2 separate regions of the Homo sapiens genome follow, and region 2 is linked to region 1. The links come from fine-mapping of genetic effects on gene expression. A gene starts in region 1. The other region holds a variant in brackets. All regions are shown on one strand. Distances are between the middles of the regions. Region 1 holds the start of NAPA (NSF attachment protein alpha). Region 2 overlaps ZNF541 (zinc finger protein 541).

Evidence for each region. PIP is the estimated chance that this variant, and not a neighbour inherited with it, causes the effect. A credible set is the group of variants that fine-mapping cannot tell apart.
Region 2: its variant is the best candidate, but not a certain one, in a credible set for the expression of NAPA in whole blood (INTERVAL, PIP 0.52).

What each region holds. Positions count from the first base shown.
Region 1 is chr19:47,512,383-47,517,750 of GRCh38, forward strand. NAPA (NSF attachment protein alpha) reads right to left here and starts at 2,681. Exons shown (of 11, transcript NM_003827.4): 1 at 2,461-2,681. The coding sequence starts at 2,558. RefSeq lists a silencer at 2,630-2,969 and an enhancer at 3,060-3,329.
Region 2 is chr19:47,542,568-47,547,935 of GRCh38, forward strand. ZNF541 (zinc finger protein 541) reads right to left here. Exons shown (of 17, transcript NM_001277075.3): 5 at 1,559-3,413. Among named protein-coding and RNA genes, the nearest start is that of ZNF541, 28 kb to the right of the region's middle. The variant T/C (reference allele first, on the strand shown) is at 2,691.

The DNA of each region.
Region 1 (5,368 bases):
AGACAGTCACAGGAATGACATCATCGAGCCCCTCCTTACAGTAGGTAATTCCACTTTATTGGTGTTTGCTGTTCATCCTGCCTTCCCAATCAGGTAGCAAATGCCTTGGGGCTGACTTAGCTGCTCCCTCCAAGCACACAGTCCAACAGCCCACTAATCCCTGGGCCAAAGGGACCAGACACCCAGAGCCACCCAGGAAAACTATCACCAAAAACCCAGCTCGTGGCCCCACCCCCAAACACAGCACTTGAACTTCTCCCCTTGTGAAGAAAAAGAAACACACACACACCCTCTCTCTCCTCGCAGCCTCTAAAATAAAACATTTTTCACCTAATCAATCCAGTCCATCAGCCCCGGATGTTTCTCCACACCAGGCAATTCGCCATCATGTTCTTCAAGTTATTTTGCTAAACATTATCCAACCTCAAACAAGGGGCGTGGCCTAGAGCCCTTTTCCTGTTCCTTCCTCTCTTGTAAAGATCCCTCTCCTTCGTGTCTTACCAGCCTCTGCCAGGCTCCTACCACAGTCTCTTCCCATCCCCAGGCCCTCCTCCCAAACCCCCTTCTCCAGCCTTCTGCAGATGTTCCCAGTCCCACCACCGTCCCCAGGCTCTGCTTCTGAGTGGCCACCACACACTGTTCTCTCTACAAGCCCACTAGTCCTTTCCCAGGTCTCCTCTCAGTTTCCACAACCTCCCCTTGACCCTTTCGGGTCGTCCCATCAGCACAGATCCCACCACCTCCCACACCACCGCCCCCTGCCAAACTCCCTTCTCCTTCCTCTGCCCAGAGCCTCATGCTCCTCTCAACCCTACTAAGTCTTCGTGGATCCCTTTTCTGTTCCCTTTCAGCTCCTCTTAGCACACTCATGTTTCTCAGTCTCTCCCTCTCCTGACCCCTCCCAGACCTCTCCGCTCGGGCGTCCACCTTGAACCCCCATCAGCTCTCTGCACGCTCCGAACCTGTTTCCTTCTGGAAGTCACATTAACAACAGCTAACACTCTCAGAGATGTAACTCCACGCCAGGCTCAATTCTAACACTCATAGCAAATGGGAGGTAGGTTTGATTTGTGATCTCCTTTAGCAGGGAGACTAAACAATTTACCCAAAGTCATGAAGTAAGTGGCAGAGCTACTTGGGCTCTTGGCACTTCTAAGCCACTACAATTTATCACAGGATGGTCGTGTCAGCTTTTAGGAGCTAACGTGAGTTTTATGCCACGTCATATGTGTTAGTTCTGTCTCCCAGGCCTTTTCCCATCCCTCTTCTCAGCATGTCTCTGTCATCCCTATTACTCGAGGATCACACAGCAGGAATTTGATCCCCCGTTTTGGTTCTCTCAGTCCCCCTGTCTCTCCCTGTTATCCCTCCATCTCCTTGGCCAAGCCACCACCACGCATTCCCCCACCCAGGAGTCTCCAGCCTCAACCCAGGCCTCCTCAGGCTTTTTTCTTTCTTTCTTTCTTTTTTTTTTTTTTTTTTTTTGAGACAGAGTCTCGCTCTGTCCCCCAGGCTGTAGTGCAGTGGCTCGATCTCGGCTCACTGCAACCTCTACCTCCGGGTTCAAGTGATTCTCCTGCCCCAGCCTCCCGAGTAGCTGGGATTACAGGTACCCGCCACCAGGCCCAGATAACTTTTGTATTTTTAGTAGAGACGGGGTTTCACCATGTTGTCCAGGCTGGTCTCGAACTCCCCGCCTCAGATAATCTGCCCACCTCGGCCTCCCAAAGTGCTGAGACCTCCACAGTCTTGACTCCATCATCCCGGGTTCCTCCGTTCAGCTGTCCTTAAACTAGTCACTGCTAACCAGGGCCGTACTCACCCCATGCACCCCCCACACTTCAGACGCGGCTCACCGCTCCTAGGATCATCTAGCCCTGAGCCCCTCTGCCTGGTGTCAGCCCCCTTCAGCCTTCACCCTCACCGCCCAGGGCCCACGCAAATCCACTGCTCCAGGGGTTGAAAAGGTCAGTCCCTCGGGCAGGCGTCCTCAGCCCCAGGCCCCATCACTGCCGCCTGAGAGCCTTCAAACAGACTCCCCTAGAGCTCCGAAAAGCCTCTGGACCTGGCTTCTCTCCCGGACTCCCTCCGTCCCCCCAGGCCGGTCCCCTCCAAGGCTTCAGGACGTACTCCCTCGGTCCAGGTTCTCCCCCGCCCGCTGGCCTGTCTTCGGCCTGGGTCCCCTTCCTCGCCTCAAGATAGTGTCGCCTCGGTCCGTGTGTCCTCAGCCCAAATCCCTTCCGCCATGTCAGACCGTCTCTCCTCAAACCGTGTTGCCCCGGCCCAGGCTCTTGGCCCTCAGCCTGCGTCCCCTCTGCCGCCTCAGGCCATGTCACCTTATTGCAGGTTCCTCTCCGTCCCCTCGGCCCGAGCTCTGCGTGCCCTAACCCGCCACCTCCGAGCGTGACTCCTTCGTCCTCTCAGCCTAGGTCCCGGCCGACCCCTCAGCCCGGTTCTCACCCAAAGAGGCCAGAGAAGAAGGACTGCGAGTTCTTCACTTTGCGCTCCGCCTCGGCCAACAGCGCCATCGCCTCCGCTTCCTTCCCGGAATTGTCCATGGCGGCCACAAAGGGACTCAGCAAAGCGCCTGACCCTGACCCTGGGAAGACTCAGCCGCGGCCGGGCCGCGGAACACAGATCGGTAAAACTCGCCCGGCTGCGTTGACGTCGCACCGGCGCGCGTCGCTTGCGGCCAGGAACCACGTGACTAGCGCTGGCCAACCAGCGGCCTCGTAACGCCGCGCCCGCTCCGCCGGACACGCCCCCACCAGCCGCCGCACGCCGCCCGTGACTCGTGACCCCCCAATCGGCGTCAAGAGACCTCAACGCATGCGCACATACCGGCGAACGGCGCTCCACTCTCTCCCCAGCGCTCTGTACCTCACCTCCCACGTGACCCTGTGGAAGGCAATGGCAGTACCCCCCGCCGAGGCCCCGCCCCACGGTGTTGCTGCTGGATCCTCCTCCACCAATCAGCAGGAGCCCTCGGCTCGCGCTGGGGCGGGGGGTCCCCCACTCGCCCTCCCCGCGGAACTCTGGCACAGTCAGCTGACCGCAGACACTCACGTGACAGCTCGGGGCCCACGCCCGGGTTTGACAGTTCTGCGCAGAACTTAGTCCCGCCCCCGCGGCTGGTCTCGCCGGTTTCTTCACTTGGAAAGGCGTTTGTGGGAAAAGGAAACCGTTCTGCTTTTTCTTGCTCCCTCTGTCGGCCAGTACTAGAACTGCTTTGGGGAGACCGGTGAAGAGAGACTGCAAACAAAAACTTAAGAGGTTCTCTAACTCTGGTTTCATAAAAAATAGCTGAAGAGGGCCGGGCACGGTGGCTTACGCCTGTAATCCCAGCACTTTGGGAGGCCGAGGCGGGCGGATCACTTGAGGTCATGAGTTTGAGACCAGCCCGGCCAACATGGCGAAACCCCGCTCTACTAAAATACAAATATTAACCGGGTGTGGTGGCACACTCCTGTAATCCCAGCTACTGAGGAGGCTGAGAGAGGAGAATCGCTTGAACCGGGGAGGTGGAGGTTGCAACGGGCCGAGATCGTGCCACTGCACTCCAGCCTGGGCGACAGAGTGAGACTTAGTCTCAGAAAAAAAAAAAAAATAGCTGAAGAGAGCGTGTTAAAAAAAAATTCAGATTCGAAGATGGGCGCGGTGTCTCGTGCCTATAATCCCAGCTACTCGGGAGGCGAGAGGATCGCTTGGGCCCAGGAGTTTGAGTCTAGTTCAAGTCCCGCCTTGGGCAACATAGCAAGACTCTGTCTCTAAAAAAAAAAGTTTAGGCTCAAACACACCTCCTGCTGTCCCAGAAAATTGAGTTGCTGGTTTCTGAGACAGGGTCTCACTCTTTGGGTTGTTGGTTTTGGAGACAGGGTCTCGGTCTGTCGCCCAGGCTGGAGTGCAGCAGCACAATCATAGCTCACCTCAGTATAACTTTGTAGTGCCAGAAAGGAAGGAAGTATTCCACACGTGTGCTCACACACAAAATTAGGGGGTATGCCAAAGGAGCCAACTGAAAGAACTCCCAATGGCCAAAGCTGGAACAATTTGAGCATCAAAATAAAGTAGTATTGGATTATAATCCCAAACATAAAGTATCCATGAGCCTATGGTCATATAGATGAATATAGAACAAATAAATAAAGGGGGGAGAATAGACAAATAGTTTGTGCAGAAGAATTCCAAATAATCTGCGTAGATACTCTGCTCTCAAGAAGGTGAAGGATACCTCCCCATTCTGTAAGTATGGACTGTGCATAGTGACTTCCTTTCAAAGAAGAGGGTACAAGAAAGGGGAGAAAAAGCCTAAATTTACAGTGGAGAAACCTGACATTGACATCTAGGTGATTGAGGTTAACCTCAACATTGATAAGTCATGTGATTAAAATGGCTCTTTACTTCTGGGATCTTTCAATCTAATCATGAAAAAAACACTAGACAAATTCCAGTTGAGCCACATCCTCCAAAATACTTGCCCAGTACTCCTCAACACTGTTGGTGGGTGCAGTGTGTCACATCTGTAGTCCTGGTACTTTGGGAGGCCAAGGCAGGAGGATCACTTGAGGCCAGGAGTTTGAGACCAGCCTGTCCAACATGGGGAAACCCCGTCGCTACTGAAAATACAAAAAACTTAGCCCGGTGAGGTGGTGCATGCCTGTAATCACAGCTACTTGGGAGGCTGAGGCAGGAGGATCACTTGTACCCTGGAGGTGGAGGTTGCAGTGAGCGGAGATTGCCTCACTGCACTCCAGCCTGGGGGACAAGAGGGAGACTCCGTCTCAAACAAATAACACTGTCAAGTCATCAAAACAAGGAAAGCCTGAGAAACCATCACAGCCAAGGAGACGTGACTGCTAAATGTAATGTCTTACCTTCGGTGGGATCCTGGAACAGAAGGGCATTGAGTTAAAAAACCAAGGAAATTGGCCGGGTGCGGTGGCTCATACCTGTAATCCCACCACTTTGAGAGGCTGAGGCGGGTGGATCACCTGAGGTCAGGAGTTCCAGACCAGCCTGGCTAACATGGAGAAACACTGTCTCTACTAAAAATACAAACATTAGCTGGGCCTGGTGGAGGGCGCCTATAGTCCCAGCTACTCAGGAAGCTGAAGCAGAATTGCTTGAACCCAGGAGGTGGAGGTTGTGGTGAGCCGAGATTGTGCCACTGTGCTACAGCCTGGGTGACAGAGTGAGACTCCATCTCAAAACAAACAAAAACACTAAGGAAATCTAAATAAACTATGAAGTTTAGTTAATAATATTGTGCCATACTGGTTCATACGTGGTAATAAATGTACCATTCTAATATAAGATGTTAATCATAGGGGAAACTGGGGTATGTGGGAATTTTTTTTTGCTGTCATTG
Region 2 (5,368 bases), 30 kb after region 1:
CTTGAACTTGGGAGGCAGAGGCTGCAGTAAGCCAAGATTGCACCACTATACTCCAGCCTGGGCAACAGAGTGAGAGACTCCGTCTCAAAAATAAATTTGGCCAGGCACAGTGGCTCACACCTGCAATCTCAGCACTTTGGGAGGCTGAGGCGGGTGGATCACGAGGTCAGGAGTTCAAGACCAGCCTGGCCAAGATGGTGAAACCTCGTCTCTACTAAACACACAAAAATTAGCCAGATGTGGTGGCGCATGCCTGTAATCCCAGCTACTCGGAGGCTGAGGCAGAGAACTGCTTGAACCCAGGAGGCGGAGGTTGCAATGAGCTGAGATAGCACCACTGCATTCCAGCCTGGGCGACAGAGTGAGACTCCATCATAAATAAATAAATAAAATAAATTTAAAAAATAAAATAAAGTGGTGGATTTGGCTGGGCATGGTGGCTCATGCCTGTAATCCCAACACTTTAGGAGGCCGAGATGAGAGGATTGCTTGAGCCCAGGGGTTCAAGACCAGGCTGGGCAACATAGCGAGACCCCCTCCATCTCTAAAAAATATATAAAAAATAAAATGGTGCATTATTTGGCACCTGAATAATAAAGATGTTAACAAAACAAAAATGAGGTAGCTGTGGTATGATGGGAAGCTACTCATCCTCCTGAGTAGCTGGGACCACAGGCGTGCACCACCATGCCCAACTAATTTTTTTTAAATTTTGGTAGAGACAGGGTTTCGCCATGTTGCCCAGGTTGGACATGGAGTCAGGAGACCTGGATGAGCTCTTTGGACCAGGCCCTCCAAACACAACATCTGGAGGAACCAGTGAATAATTATCAATGTGCTTAAGTGTGGGGCACGATGCAGGTGCCCACTTGTGCTTGTGGAAACCAAGACTCACAATCAGAAAACACATGGCCATTTCAAGCAGGAATCTTTAAAGGAAAGAGAGCATCTACCTTCATATCCTCTGAAGATTCTAAAAAGGCAAATCCAAAGGGAAACAAGAGAAAAAAAAAAGCAAAAAAGGCTTTGTGAGATAACAGTGTTTTGAACAACTCTGGGATATCCTCATGTTGATCTTTTTTTTTTTTTTTAAGACAGGGTCTTGCTCTGTTGCCCAGGCTGGAGTGCAGAGACACAATCTCAGCTCACTGAAACCTCCATCTTCCAGGTTCAAGCGATTCTCCCCCACCTCAGCCTCTCGAGTAGCTGGGACCACAGGCGTGTGCCACCACGCCCAGCTACTTTTTTAAAATTTTGGTAGAGACTGGGTTTCGCCATGTTGCCTAGGCTGATCTCGAACTCCTGAGCTCAAGCAGTCTCCCCACTTCAGCCTCCCATCCCAAAGGGCTGGGATTACAGGCATAAGCCACCTCACCTGGCCTCATTCTGGTCTTTTTTTTTTTAGTGGGGAAAACCACAATCTTTCGGAACCTTAATTCCTTCCTCTGTAAAATTGCATCTGGGGACTCTCTGAAATGAAATAAAATGCCTGGACAACTAACAAATGCAAAGGAAACTCACTCCACTCTGGTCAGGCCACGTGAGAGAGAGCTGGTACCTGGATTCTGCTGAATATTGTCAGCTTGGACTTGGAGGGATCTGCCGGGGGCCCGGCCGATGAGAAGGAGGCCATGGCTACCTGGCTCGGAGAAGCCGCACAGCACATATCCATCTTCGCCTTCTCTTTCCGGAAGCCGGAGAATCGCGGGGCCCTGGGGTTGCCCAAGAGCCGGTAGCCTCCACCCCGGGAGCAGGCTGGGCCCTTTTCACCTTTTGTGATCCTTGAAGCCGCGCCATTCTCGGCTGGGGCCTGCTTCCCTGGCAGCGAGGCTCCTGGTGGCTCCTCCCCACCTAACTGGGTCTGCCGTTGGCCTGTGGAGGGGAAGATGTCCTCCAGGTCCAAGGTCCCTTTAGAGGATCGCAGCTGCTTGGCCAGAGAAGAGATGTCTGGATTCCTGGAAGGGTCCAGAGACGGTGCTGCAAGGGGCGTTGGAACCGCGGCCACTTTCAGTCCCCCCTTTGCGTCTCGTCTCGTGCTGCCGGGGGAGGCCTCTCTGGGAACCCCGGGTGTGGTTTTTCTCCTGCGGGCTGGGGAGCCCTCTGCCTCGGGGTTTCCAGGGCCGGCGTGGAGAGAGTCCACAGCAGGAGCCAGTGGTGGGGGCTGCTGCGGCCACGGCCCCTGCAGCGGCCTCAGGGCGGCTGGTTTGCCCTCGGGCGCAGGGAGCTGGGAGGAGACTGCTGCCACCTGGGCATGGGAGAAGATCCGCTGGGACTTGGTGATCATCTGGAACACCTGCATCTGCTCGTGGCTCACAAGAGGTTCCTGCGACTTGAGGAAGAGCTGGCGGAAGAGCGGCGAGGCATCCGCAGGGAGCCCGCCTGCCTTCTGGGCCTCCTGGAGGCCGGGCTCCCCGGGGTTCTGGCACAGGAAGGAGTCGCAGTCGACCTTGACCTTCTTGGGGGCGCAGGGGTCATCTTCCCCGCTGGCCGACCTGGGGTCGCTCGGGGCCTCCGCGGGGACCCTGAGGAGCGCGGCAGGGAAGGGCAGAGCATCCTCCAGGCCACCGCCGGGGCCGGGCGGGGACTCCTCCGAGGGGCTTCCGCTGCTGGGTCCCGGGCCAGACTCGGAGCCCTCCCGCGAGGGCACGGCCGAGGGCTTGTGGACAACAAACACGTTGTTGCCTTTGCTT[T/C]TGGGACAGCCCGGCAGGTTCCGGAGCCACTGGAAGCTGTGGCTCGATGGCTGGGAACTGGCAGGGACCGTCTGGCCTCGGAAGAGAGGCAGGCAGGCAGGCACGGAGCCGCCTTCGGGCCAGCACTCCGCGGTGGACCGGGCCTGGAGCAGCGCGGTATCTGGCTCCGGCTCTGGCGGGTCGGGGGCGCCGTTCTCGGCGGCCCTGGAATTAGGGGCTGTGAACACGTCAGTGGCCGGCTCTTTCTGTGGGAGGCAAGGCTCCTCGGGAAGCTCGGTGTCCAGCGCTGCTGGGGCCGCGTGGGGGCCGGCTGGGGTGCAGGACGAGGACCCCGATGAGGCGGGGCAGGGACAGGCAGTGTTCCTCCCTTCGCTGTCTGAAGCCCCCGCCGGGGCTGGGCCAGGAGAAGGGGTCTTCTGGTGGACGATGCTACTCACGATGCGGCGCAGGAGGTCCCGGTGGGGCAGGAGGGAGCCGGGGGACCTGGCCTCTGGGGGCACCAGGGACCGCAGGCTGCTGGGGGGCGGCTGGCCGGCCGACTCGTGGGCGTGGGGGGAGTCCCCGCAGGCCTCTTCCTCCGGGGGGGCTTCCTTCAGGATGCACAGGCCGTGATGGACCTCGTAGTGCCGGCGCAGAGAGCGGTAGTCGCAGTAGCTCTTGCTGCAGCCCTGCTCGATGCACACGAAGGGCTTTGTCTTCTGGTGGGTGAGCATGTGCCCGGTCCTGGAGCCAGACACAAGCAGGGGCGTCACCGGGGCACCTGGGACCGGGCTTTCTGCTGTAGGACCCTGGTGGCCCCCAAAAGTCTGTGGTACAGTTGCACCACAATTCAGAAATTGTACTCAGCCCCCACGAGGAAAGACCACCCAGCAAACCCTGCTTCGGTCAAAGCCATCTGGCAGGGGAGTTCCTCTCCCCTCACCTTTAAGCAAACCCCTTACAGAAAAGTAAAAAAAAAAAAAAAAACCAGCGGGGCACAGTGGCTCATGCCTGTAATCCCAGCACTTTGGGAGGCCGAGGTGAGTGGATCACTTGAGGTCAGGAGTTTGAGACCAGCCTGGCCAACATGGTAAAACCCGTCTCTACTAAAAATACAAAAAATTTAGCTGGGTGTAGTGGCACATGCCAGTAATCCCAGCTACTGGGGAAGCTGAGGCAAGAGAATCACTTGTACCCAGGAGATGAAGTGCATTGCAGTGAGCCGAGATCACACCACTGCACTCCAGCCTGGGTGACAGAGTGAGACTCTATCTCAATAAACAAACAAACAAATAAATAAAATTTTAAAAAATACAAAAAAAAAAATCCACTGAGGCCAGATCAGATTTCCCCAGAGTGGGTTCCCAAGGAACACAAAGACCTCCAGAGTTGCTCCTCAAGGACTTTGGCACAGCTAATAAATAAGTTTTGAAAAAACACCATTCACTCCTTGGAGGTTCACGATGCACAGTAGCAAATTTAATTAATTAATTTTTTGTTTTTGAGACGGAGTCTTGCTCTGTCACCCAGGCTGGAGTGCAATGGCACGATCTCGGCTCACTGCAACTCTGCCCCCCAGGTTCAAGCGATTCTTGTGCCTCAGCCTCCAAGTAGCTGGGACTACAGGTGCGTGCCACCACGCCCAGCTAATTTTTGTATTTTTAGTAGAGACGGGGTTTTGCCTTGTTGGCCAAGCTGGTCTCGAACTCCTGACCCTCAAGTGATCTGCCTGCCTTGGCCTCCCAAAGTGCTGAGATTACAGGCGTGAGCCACTGTAGCCGGCACACAGTAGCAAATGTAAAAGCCACACAGAGAGAGACCTGTTTAACTTTCAGTGTCTCTCAAACTTATTTGCCCAGAGAACTGTTTTTGGTTTTGTTTTCAAAAAGCCCCTATTAGCATTCCTGAGAACCAGAATTCTGCAGAATAGACTGGAGGAGATGCTAACTTGGGGACGATCCTTCCTTTAACAAAGGAATCTGTGCCTTACCGTAGGAGACCCCTAAGAAGATGCTACCTGGAACCCCCCACAGCAAAGAAGCCAATTTACAGAGGCCCAATCCATAGAAACATTATAGAGCCAAACAGCCAAATGTGCCTATAGTTTCTGCAAACAGAAATGCATGTAAATATGTATTGCATCACACCTACCTCTGCATTAACACATTATAAATATAAGCAGAGGAGTACATCACCCTCTGGGCCCCCAACAGCCCTGCTCTGGACAGTCCTAGTCGATGTGGACTAAATCATAAAGTCTTTCCCCAAAGGCTCACCCTCAGCCTCTGTCTGAGGGAAGCAACAGAGAGGGAATCAGGAGACCTAAGTTCTACCCCCAGCTATTACCAACTTGTGACATGAGCAAATTGGCTCCTTTTCCTGGGGTAGGTGTGGGTGAGAGGATAAGATGAAAGATGGATTAGTCAAAGCCCCTTGTGAAAGGGAGGAGCCCCATAAGAATGCTAAGTACTTTCATCTCCCACTTGCAGGTCTCCTGGTTTGAAAAACATGTGTCTTTCTTTCCCCCACAGGCAAGACAAGCTTATCATTTCCAAGACATTAAGCGGTGGCTCACACCTGTAATCCCAGCACTTTGGGGAGGCCGAGTCACGCAGATCACTTGAGAAATCCTGTCTCTACTAAAAATACAAAAATTAGCCAGGCATGATAGTGCATGCCTGTAGTCCTAGCTACTCAAG